3 linked regions of the Homo sapiens genome follow. The protein of the gene in region 3 purifies or fractionates together with the protein of the main gene of each other region. This does not show direct contact. Each region holds a gene or a part of one and is shown on either strand. Other genes may lie near its edges.

Region 1 (3,751 bases), on a different chromosome or scaffold from region 3:
CATTCTGTTGCCCTGGTTACAAGGCAGTGTTGTGGCCTGAATTGTGTCTCCCCAAAAAATATGTTGAAGTCCTAACCTCTGGGTACCTATGAATGTGACCTTGTTTGTAAACAGGGTCTCTGCAGATGTAAATAAGATGTAATTTAGACCAGGCGCGGCGGCTAACGCCTATAATCCCGGCACTTTAGGATAAAGATTAGCATAAAGATTCTTTACTTCCAAAGGGACTTGCTTGCCTTTGGGAGGCCGAGGCAGGCGGATCACGAGGTCAGAATTTCGAGATCAGCCTGGCCAACATAATGAAACCTCAGCTCTACTGAAACTACAAAAATTAGCCCGGCGTGATGGCTCACACCTGTAATCCCAGCTACTCAGGAGGGTGAGGCAGAACTGCTTGAACCTGGGAGGCGGAGGTTGCAGTAAGCCAAGATCACGCCATTGCACTCCAGCCTGGGCGACAGAGCAAGACTTTGCTTCAAAAAAAAAAAAAAAAAATATATATATATATACAATTTAAGACAAGGTTATACTGGAGTAGGATGGGCCCTTAATCCAACATTACTGATGTCCTTATGAGAAGAGTCGGGCTCACTGAGGAAGGAGGATCATCACTTGAGGCCAGGAGTTCAAGAACAGCCTGGGCAAAATAGTGAGACCCCCATCTCTACAAAAAAACACAATTAGCCAGGTATGGTGGCACATGTCTGTAGTCCTAGCTACTCGGGAGGCTGAGGAAGGAGGATCACTTAAGCCCAGGAGTTTGAGGTGACAGTGAGCTATAATAATGACACTGTACCCCAGCCTGGGTGACAGTGAGAGACCTTGTCTACAGATCTTTGAGAATAAACCTCTGTTGTTTTAAGCCACGCGGTCTGTGGCACTTTCTTACAGCTGCCTCAGGAAACCAGGAGAAACCAGGCGGCGACACGCAAAGCCGGAAAGGCGGGAGAGGAGGGGAAATGATAATGTCCCAGGCTTGGCCCAGCGCGGCAGGGTGAAGGTGAGGGCGGCTTGGGTTTTGTCTGCTTTGACTGGCGGCAGTGCCTAGGGACTCAGCACGTGGAGTGTGAAGAAAGAGGAATCAAAGACAACTGCGAGGCTCTGAACGCACAGCCAGGAAGATGGAGCTGCCATCACAGCGCCAGTCAGGCGGAGGAGGGAGCAGGTTTGGAGAAGAGAGCCTGATGTGTGCCTAGTGCGAAATGCCTGAGACATCCAGTGGAGACGCAAGAGTCCCCAAAAAATTATCAGTGTGCTCAAAATCCAGATGGCAGGAGAGCTACGAGGCAGACGCGTCCCCCAGCGAGCGTGTGGCGAGGACAGACCCAAGACATTCTGACCTACAGAGACCAGTGCGGGACGCAGCTGCGGGGCGGCGGGACAAGGAGAGGGGCCCGGGGCCCGCGCGCAGCTCCCGAGGTGGTGCAGGCCCTGGCGCCCGCGGGCTTCCTAAGACATCCCACGGGTGGGCTTCGGGGGAGTAGGGCGCCCTGTGGACCCAAGAGAAGCCTGGGGGGCTGCAGCTCGCGCAGGCCCGGCGCCCCCGCGCCCCCGCCCCGCCGCCCGCACCCTCGGCCGCCAGGCACTCACGTAGCGGCTGCACATGGCCACGGCGAGGTTGCGCAGGTGCGGCGTGGCCCCCACCCACAGGAACAGCGAGTCCGTCAGCCGCATGACGTGGAAGTGGACCAGCTGCTCCCACAGCCTCGCGCTGAAGTTGTGCAGGGAGACGTCCCCGCCGGCGGCGACAACCAGCCCCTCCATGCCGCCCCACGGCTCCCGGCCCACAGCGCCAGACCCGGGTCCTCGCCGCTGCCAGCCCCGCCAGACCCGATGGAGCGAGCACCGAGAGACCGAGCGCGCTTTCGCTTTCGGCCCCGGAAGGGCGGGGGTGAGGGGCGTGGTCGGGGAGGGGCGATCCCGGGCTTGGGTTGGGGGCGTGGTCGAGGCGGGGCGGCTGCCGGCCCTGGGCGGAGTAGCTGTCCCTGGTTGTCTTGCTGGCCTCTCCCGCACACCAGTACCTCTCTGGACGGGCTGGGGAAACCCACTTGAGTAGCAGAGTGCGACAGTGACCTCTAGGAGTCCACGGGCGCCCAGCAGAACTCACCCTCGCTTTGTTTCCCCCCACCCCCTAATTATTACTGACGCGGGGCATTCAAGGGCTGAAGCCAGCCGCACCGTCCTCCCAGGCCGTGACACTTCGCCCTACAGACATTAATTTAATTAAAAATTTAAAAAGACTGATTTTTAATTAGTTCTTCAAGCACTCTGAGAACGGCCACCTCCCGTCCCACCTCCTCCTCCTAGCAGCCCTTTAACTCCAAGGAGGCTTCGACGGCACCCAGCCCTAATTAAGAATGGCAACGGTATTGGGAGAAAGCCTTTAGAAAGGAAAATTGTGTCAACTAAGTTGGCAGGAGGATGGGCAGGCACCCTTTTGGACGCCGAGTCCCAAGCTGCAGTCATGTACATGGCCTCGGGCTACCCCCTTAACCTCTCTGAGACTCAGTTTCCTCATCTGCAAAATGCAAATAAGAACAGGTGCCTTTCGGAGACGTGGAAAGGATCTCAAGAGAGATTAATGGGAAGCACCAACAATCATCCAATCATCCCATTGTCATACCTATGGGGAGACCCCTTGAACACTTCAGGACATTACAGAGTTGAGAAAAGGAAGCCTTGATGGGTTAAGAGAGAAGGTGGTAAAAGAAAACAGCCCATTTTGTCAGATTCTGTTACAACTGACTTTAGAGATTTAACTTGGAACTATAAAAGGTCTGCTTTAAAAATCTCTAATAGATCTAAGTTGACTAAATTGAAATTTAAGAGGGCATTTTCCATAGTTCTATTTGCTAATTATCGATGATTCAATAATACAGTTAATTTTCAGGTCAATATTTTAACAGCTTTATTAAAATGTGATTAACATACAATAACTGCACATATATAGTGTACAAATTGAAGTCTTGACACGTTATAGCCAGTGAAATCATCATCACAATCCACAAAGTGAACGCGTCCAGTACTCCCTCCTGCCCTCAGTAATGACTCCTGCCCCCAACCACTGATCTGCTTCCTGCCACACAGATTAGTCTGCATTTTCCAGAGTTTTGTATCAGTGGAATCACACAGTATGTACTGTTTTTTGTCCAGCTTCTTTCCTTCATCATAATTATCTTGGGTTCATCTGCTTGTGTGTCAATGGCTTGTGTCTTTGTATTACTAAGCAGTGTTCCATTGTATGGCTACACCATAATTGTTTTATCCCTTTACTTTGTGATTTGAGGCCCTTCAATCAGCTAGGAGGACCCAAAGATTAAGGAAACAAAGTTACCGACCGGTGGAGAGTTCAAGGCCTGGCTGGCATGGCAAATTTCTCAATCTGGATTGTAATGATGGTTTCACTGGTTATACATGTCTCAAAACCTCAATGCTCCTCTCTCTCTCCAGCTTTGCTGTCACTGCTCGGGAAACACACAGGCAGAGGGTCACAGCCAGTCATGCCCAACATCAGCGGCCCTGGAACACTGCCCTGCAGTCCCTAGACAGCGTCCTCTCTCACTCCCCTTGACTATGCTCCCCAAACCCTGAGCTGACCCAAACCCAAGTTCAGCAGATGCCCTTGCTTCTGATGTTATGCAGAAAATAGAGGTGACAAAGCCAGATTTTCCCAGCTCCTTGTCCCTCTCCTAAAATGCTTATCTTCATTGGACCCTATCTTTCCTTCTGCTCACTCTGTGACAGTGAAAGA
Region 2 (3,751 bases), on a different chromosome or scaffold from region 3:
CAATCTGATACACAAGCAGAGCATTCCGGTTGCTGTCAGCATCTGTGGCTCGAATCACCAGTGGGCTGTTATCCAAGCTCCTGACAATGCTATTAATTGGGGCAGCCTCACTTAGGCTGCCTGAGTATTGAGAAAAGAGAAAAACTGGGGCATTATCATTTTCATCAACAATCTGAATATTGACTGTAGCATTGGAAGCCATTCCTGCCATATTGGTGGCCTGAATGATGAGTTGATAAGAGGATGTGCGCTCATAATCCAGGGCCTTCTGAGTGGTGATGACTCCAGAATATGGATTTATGGTAAAGATCCCATTAATGTCTCCATCTTTGACTTCATAAATGAGGGTAGATTGACTGATGGCAGAGATTAGAATGACTGATGTTCCAATGTCAACATTTTCATTTACTTCTGCTTGGTAGTCTTTGTGAATGAACTTGGGGTGAGAATTGTCAGACATGGTGACGGAAATGCGCACAATTGCAGTAGCAGACATTGGCGGGGATCCCTGATCTGTGACTTTGATGGATAGGACAAACTGACCCATCGTCGTCATGTCTGGTTCTTTGCAAATGGTGATGATGCCTAGGACCGGTTCGATCTTAAACATGTTCCCAGTGTTCCCTAAAATACAGAAATCAATGGTGAAATGAGTTACATGTGGGTCACTGAAATCTTTTTGATTAACTCTTTATCTATAGGTACCTTACTGCAATGTGGCAAGTAGAAAGCAATTATAGTACTCATCTGTGTCATTCTGAAATAAAATGAGAGGCTTCTCTTTCAGGGGTACTGAAAAGGAACCAAAATGAGTTTCCCAGTATTATAGTAAATTTCAGATCAGTAACTTCTAGATCCAGGTTAAAAACACAATGACAATGACACAGTCTTATGTGCATTCAAGTTGGGAAATAAGAGAGCCCGAAGGAGAGATCTTTCTGCTAAGAATGTATAGGACTTCCTTATTTCCAGCCTTGTGAGAAGACAGATAGATTGGGAAGCCCACATATGAATGCCACTGGTTTAGGTAGCAGTGTCATATTTTCTGTTCTAGGTTTAAAGAAAGAGGGTTGTGGGAATAGTTTCAGAGCATTATAAAGTAGTCAGTTGTTTTCTGATTATCCCAAAAGCAAACTTCGCTACATGGAATTGGTATTATTTCACCCTATCAAAAATGACTTTATCCAAAACACTACTTTGGTGAAGGGGTTTGTTCAGTCAGGTGTGGAGAATTCTTGGCAAGTCATTATTTGCCTTGTAAGTGTGATGAATTTTCCTGACTTCTCTTCTATTCTCCACTCATGCTCTACCCCTCTCTCATGCTTCTGAACACACACATGCACACATCTAGACATAAAAGTAAACATAAAAAGTTATAGGGCAGTTGCTCAATCTGTAACCATTCTATTCACCAAGCATTTGAGGTGTTTCTAGTGTACCAAGAAACTGTTGGGAATCTGAACCAGCACTGCAACCAAGAACCTGAGACATAATCCTTGTGAAACTGAAACCTGGGCACCCCACTTTGATAGAGCTGGCAGGGGAAGGGCTCTGGCCATGACACTGTAGTAGTTTACAGCTCTGCTTCAGAAACATGTTGTGGTTCGAAATCTGGGATTGTTGAGAATGAGAGAAATAACAGAGGAATAAAAAATGGGGAAGACACAATGTGGAGTATGTAAAGAAGGTAGGTGGTGACAGAGCTGAAAGGCAGTGGGTAGTGTGAAGTTGCATCCCTCACCAAGTTGCTTTTTGCTTCTCTTATCAGGCTTTCTCATACTTCTCAAAGAACACATATACTTCTGTGTTGAGATCCTTTCCAATCAAAAGTTAAAGATCTTGGTTATTCAACTCTATCTGGACTTTTCTTTCTGAGTATTGTAGTATGATAGGTATATAATTTAAATGTTAAAATCATTAAAATAGGGACCAGGATTTTCAGGGCAGTTATGAGATGTGTCTACATACCTCTTCCTACATGCTAATTATATAAAGTTTTCCATGTCTGAACACAAAATGGTCATGTTCATGTAACATCTATTTCAAGAAGATACTTGCTTATTTTAAAAGACAAAGTATATCTAATAAAGAGGTCATTTTGATTCCAGCCCCCCCAAATGTGAATATTAAACAATGTTGTCTTTGATGTCGGCATGATTTATTACTTTGCCACCTAAACATGGCCATTTTGTGATGACAATAATAAAAAGTTCAATGATCTTATGAGTAAACGTTCAAGCTTGCAATGAATAGTGTCATAGAATTGAGTGTGAATCCAACAGGTGATCCACAGAACTTTATAAGGGGAAATCACTTCACCTAAGCAATGGTCACCTTCCAGTGATGGCACCAACATGCAACCCTGACTGATGAATGCTACTGGAGCCAGGGATCTCGGTGTTCACTGATTATGGTGCCCGACTGCAGAGTTTCTAGGTAAGTCCTCCCTCACTCCACACCCGGCAGATTTCTTCATGCCCAGAAAGATAGATTATGGTGGGGATGGCAGGGAGCCAGCTTTTGACCTCAAATATAATTTTTTGTTTTTTTTTGAGATGGAGTCTCGCTCTGTCATCCAGGCTGGAGTGCAGTGGTGCAATCTTGGCTCACTGCAACCTCTGTCTCCTGGGTTCAGGTGATTCTCCTGCCTCAGCCTCCAGAGTAGCTGGGACTGCAGGCAGGCACCACTACACCTGGCTAATTTTCATGTTTGTAGAGACGGGGTTTTGCCACGTTGGTCAGGCTGGTCTCAGACTTCTGACCTCAAGTGATCCACCTGCCTTGGCCTCCAAAAATGCTGGGATTACAGGCACGAGCCACTGTGCCTGGCCTCAAGTAGAAATTCATAATCCTGCTATCCCATGGCCGCTGATCTGCTTGTGACACGCTTCCAGAATGGTGTGCTGATACATCAGGTCCAAAGTGGGCCCTTCTCCTCTTTCCCTCTTTGACACACTGACCCATTCTCTTGGAATCCACTTCCTGCTTATTCTTTCCTGCTACACTTGAATCCTGAAAAATTGGCCTCTGTTTGTTTTTTGGAATCTATGGCCTCTTGTAGATTTTTGGCAATTGAATAAAAGCTGTGCTTTTCTTATCATTCCTTATCTAGTACACAACACAGCATCTGCTACAAAGAAGTTGCTTAATATTTGTTGAATGATTGAGAGGAGAGGTAAATCTAAAAAAAATATTTTAAACTCTCTATTCATATGCATCTTGGGATCCATATGCCCTCACCCGAACTCAACTCAGTCCCAGTCTCTCTTGTACAATCCTGCCTCAGACTCACCATTGACACCAAACACAAAACTCAAACTAGATATAAGACCTGAAGCTCTGCACTCAAATTCTGCCTCAGTCCTTCAGGCCAAAATAAAAAGCTTCCGTAGTTACTTTAGAGGACAGGCAGGAGACAGGAAATTTATAGCCCACCAATAAACAGAGTGAAATCTTGCTTATCTGATGTGTGTGAGAAAAGTTAAATAAAACATAATACTTTACACAGCCATTTGTCATTTGCTTCAAAGTGCTGAAGCATCTGGGATCTGCCTGTCTCCCACCCTCAACTGGGAAGAAACTTGCTCCTCTAGGACCAGTGCGGACCAGTGTGGGTTTGTCTGTCTGTCTGTGAAGAGCCCTGCTGGTCATTTGAGATTTATTGTGAACATTGTAATCCTCAATAGTTTCTTACATACAATCAAAGGTCATTTTTTTTGCGATATCAATTGTTCCCATGGTTTTCTGGAAG
Region 3 (3,751 bases):
TCTCTTTTTTTTTCTTTTTGAGACAGAGTCTCACTCTGTCCCCCAGGCTGGAGTGCAGTTGTGCGATCTCAGCTCACTGCAACCTCCGCCTCACGGGTTCAAGCGATTCTTCTGCCTCAGCCTCCTGAGTAGCTGTGATTATAGGCACGTGCTACCAGGCCTGGCTGATTTTTTTTTTTTTTTTTTTTTTTAGATGGAGTTTCACTCTTATTGCCCAGGCTGGAGTGCAGTGGCACGATCTCGGCTCACTGCAACCTCTGCCTCCAGGTTCAAGCGATTCTCCTGCCTCAGCCACCCGAGCAGCTGGGATTACAGACATGCGCCACTACGCTCAGCTAATGTTGTAGTTTTAGTAGAGATGGGGTTTCTCCATGTTGGTCAGGCTGGTCTTGAGCTCCTGACCTCAGGTGATCTGCCCGCCTTGGCCTTCCAAAGTGCCGGGATTACAGGTGTGAGCCATCGTGCCTGGCCAATTTTTGTATTTTTAGTAGAGACAGAGTTTCGCCATGTTGGCCAGGCTGGTCTCGAACACCTGACCTCAGGTGATCCACCCGCCTTGGCCTCCCAAAGTGTTAGGATTACAGGCGTGAACCACCGTGCCCAGCCACTTACTCCCTCTTGATCCTTACATTATAGTAAGCAACCTCAGCTGAGAGCTAAGAGTAGGACCTGGAAGCCAGACATGAGTCAGAGACTCAGGTACTCAAATTCTTCTCCCACCCTGGGAGACAGTCTCCTCCTGCAACAGAGGATGGCCCTAGCCTAACGGGAGAGTCTGGGATGCCTATGCACAGTGGGGAGGAATGGATGGGTGGATTTAGAGTGTTCAGTGATAGGGGGTCCAAGCAAGAAGAGCTTTTGGAAAAAGGGGCTCACCCTGTGGGAGAGTGGTCTTCCCACAGGCTGATCTTGGCTGTGATGGGCATAAACATTAGTAACACACAGAATTCTATTTGAATTTCAGTTCAACTATTTGTTATGTACTTTTAGGCAGGTTTTCTGTCTGTTTTCCCTTTCTAATGGAGGCAAAACCACCCCCCCTACATAGAGTTCAGTAAGTACCAGTAACATGCTGGTACATACATGGTAGGTACTGAATACACGCTCTTGCCGTTACCTCCCTTGCTAGGCTGTTTGACCAGCCCCAGCCCACTCACTGGAGCTTGTGGAATCGTTCAAATCCAGCGGCCACATACTGCCCTCTGTTCTTCAAGTCTGCCAGGTTGGTGACAGGGTGGCCATGACAAGGTGTGTAGAGGGCACGCACAGCCAGTGGGGCCTGCACAGCTGATGTCACCTCGCAGAGGAAGGCCTCCATGGTGGGGAAGCGGCGTTGAGTCACCACCAGCTGGGAGCCTGGGAAGAATGGGTCCCCATTCCGGTACACCACTACCCTCTTGGCTGCTGGACTGCCACCTGCCATAGTGTATCCTCAGTCAGAGAAACAGACCTGTTGCCAGGCAACCAAGGAAGGGCTGGGAACATTGCCAATCAGAGGTGGAGTCCTGCCCTCTCACCCAGGAAGGCAGAGGGAGACTGTGGCAGGAGCATTTATCTGCATTCAGGGTTTTATCCCATCTGCCCTGGGGAGATCACACTTAAACATAGGTGTTACCCTACTCTCCAGAGCCTCCTTGCCACTCTAAAGCACAAGGCTGAGCTCAATTGGGGATCAGCTTTGGGAGCTGTTCCCTAAGGAGGATGGCTAGATCTTTTCCTGGGCCATGGCTCCCAGCTGGCTCCGGGGTCAATGCCCCATGCCAGTAGGAAGTGAACGGCAGGGCCCAGAATCTGTCCTGGCCAGAAGCAGAAATGAAAGCAGCCAGACTCAGAATCTAAGAAAAACCTTTATTCCCAACAGACCTCTCATTCTACTTCCCCCAGGTAACTCCTTAGCCACACATTTGTTTTTTGAGACCGTGTCTCGCTCTGTAGCCCAGGCTGGAGTGCAGTGGCATCATCTTGGCCTACTGCAATCTCCATCTCCTGGGTTCAAGCGATTCTCCTGTCTCAGCCTCCCGAGTAACTGGGACTACAGGCATGCACCACCACGCCTGGCTAATTTTTATATTTTTAGTTGAGATGGGGTTTCATTTCACCATGTTGGTCAGGCTGGTCTCAAACTTCTGACCTCAGGTGATCCACTCACCTTGGCCTCCCAAAGTGCTGGGATTACAGGTGTGAGCCACTGCACCCGGCCCCTTATCCACAAATTTGGATTGAGCTACAGGCAGAGGATTGAAAATGTGTCCTTCCTCCTTCCCTATACTCATGCCAGCTCTCTGCTCCAGCTTCTCTTGGCCCCACTAGTCACCAATGGCCAGGGGCAGGAGCAGAAGCCAGAGCTGGTCAGGGAGGTAGGATGAGGTCTTGTCTCACTGCCCTTTCATAGCATTCCCCTTTGGAACCTGATCCTCTCCTGGCTTCCTAGGGTCTAGCCAGGTGGTTCTGTTTTCCATGGCCTGCCCCTCCACTGTTCCTCTCCTGTACAGCCTGCCTTTGTAGAAGACAGAATCTCAGGTGACTTTGATCTCCATGGTATAGTCCTCTGCTTTTTCTGTCCTTCATGACTAGGCTCATTGGAGGTTCCATCTCTGGAGCTTCTATCAGTGGGGGCCTGGCCTTTGGGTGGTTTAGTCCTCCAGAGATCGAGGACACTATGCTCTGGCCCCCCCAAGGTACCATCCCAGATGATGTGGTCCTCTGAGAGGCCCAACTCTTGTGTCCTGACTGTTCGGCAGTCAGGCTCTTTGTGGTCTAGTTTTCTGGGAGACATCTCCTTAATATTTGAGTCCTCATAGAGTGCAGACAGCTGTGTCCTGGACTTCCTGGGACAATGGTTCCTAGGTTTTAAACCTCTGGGGGTCTGGTCCTCCAGGATTTTCATCTGCAGCAGGCAGGTCCCTCCAAAGGTCTGTCTTCCATCGTCTGGCCCTTTGGTGAGCCTGTCCCCCAAGGCCTGGCTGTTTGATGGTATAGACGACGGTGGTCCAGACTTGCTGTAGCATGGTTCTCTGCACTTAGCCCCAGCAATGTTTTTTTGTGTAGTGGCCAAACTTCCTGGGGATCTGTGGGGTGATTTGACCCTGTGACAGGAGTCATCCTCCTGTTCTAGCTCTCCAGTGGTCCTGTCTCTGTAGGACTGGTCCTCCAGTGGTGCGCTTGGTTGTGACTGGTCCCTCTCACAGGCCTGTTCCCCATGTTCTAGGAACACGCGGGGTTCCTCTCTGATCGGGCCCGCCTCTGGGGATCTCAGTGTTTGTTTAAGAAGTAGGTACTGTTGGGGGAGAGAACATACATTGTACCAAGCAGGCCTGCTTGGGCATGGCAGGTCGTCTCTCCCTAACCCCCACCCTTGACCCTAAATGTTCAGAAAGAGTTCCAGGTTAGTGTTACCTCCTTACGGCTATTGATGGCCTGTTGCAGCCACAGCAATTCCATGGCCAAGTGGCTGCGGTGGTACTGAAGCTCTTGAAGCTGAGGTTGGCTGTGGGGCAGTCTTTGATCTGTGGCTTCTGTGAAGGAGGGAAGAAAGGAAGGAGAAAACCTTGAGGGACCAGACCCTGGGAAATGGCCTAGCCTTAGACTTTGGAAACTCCCTCCCCTGCACTGCCCAACCATGTGGTGGCCCTATCCCGGCAGAGGGAAGACGGGAAAGGGATGCAGCTTATCTAGCGCAAGCCTTTCACTCTTCAGATGGGAGGCTGAGGCACAGTGAGGGTCAGGGGCTTGCCCTGATCTTTGCAGAGAG

The links.
Region 1: the proteins of DCDC2B (region 3) and PSMG4 purify together in Homo sapiens (affinity purification with mass spectrometry; 2 studies listed by BioGRID and IntAct, with this or other methods). This does not show direct contact.
Region 2: the proteins of DCDC2B (region 3) and FAT3 purify together in Homo sapiens (affinity purification with mass spectrometry; 2 studies listed by BioGRID and IntAct, with this or other methods). This does not show direct contact.

What each region holds. Positions count from the first base shown.
Region 1 is NC_000006.12:3,257,036-3,260,786, reverse strand, and holds the start of PSMG4 (proteasome assembly chaperone 4), read right to left. Parts: upstream 1,841-3,751; 5' UTR 1,765-1,840; coding exon 1,591-1,764; intron 1-1,590. UniProt on the Homo sapiens protein: Chaperone protein which promotes assembly of the 20S proteasome.
Region 2 is NC_000011.10:92,794,709-92,798,459, reverse strand, and holds part of FAT3 (protocadherin Fat 3 isoform 1 precursor), read right to left. Parts: intron 625-3,751; coding exon 1-624.
Region 3 is NC_000001.11:32,206,766-32,210,516, reverse strand, and holds the start of DCDC2B (doublecortin domain-containing protein 2B), read right to left. Parts: upstream 1,429-3,751; 5' UTR 1,424-1,428; coding exon 1,158-1,423; intron 1-1,157. Other genes in the region: IQCC (IQ domain-containing protein C), read right to left, coding at 2,435-3,277, 3,397-3,515.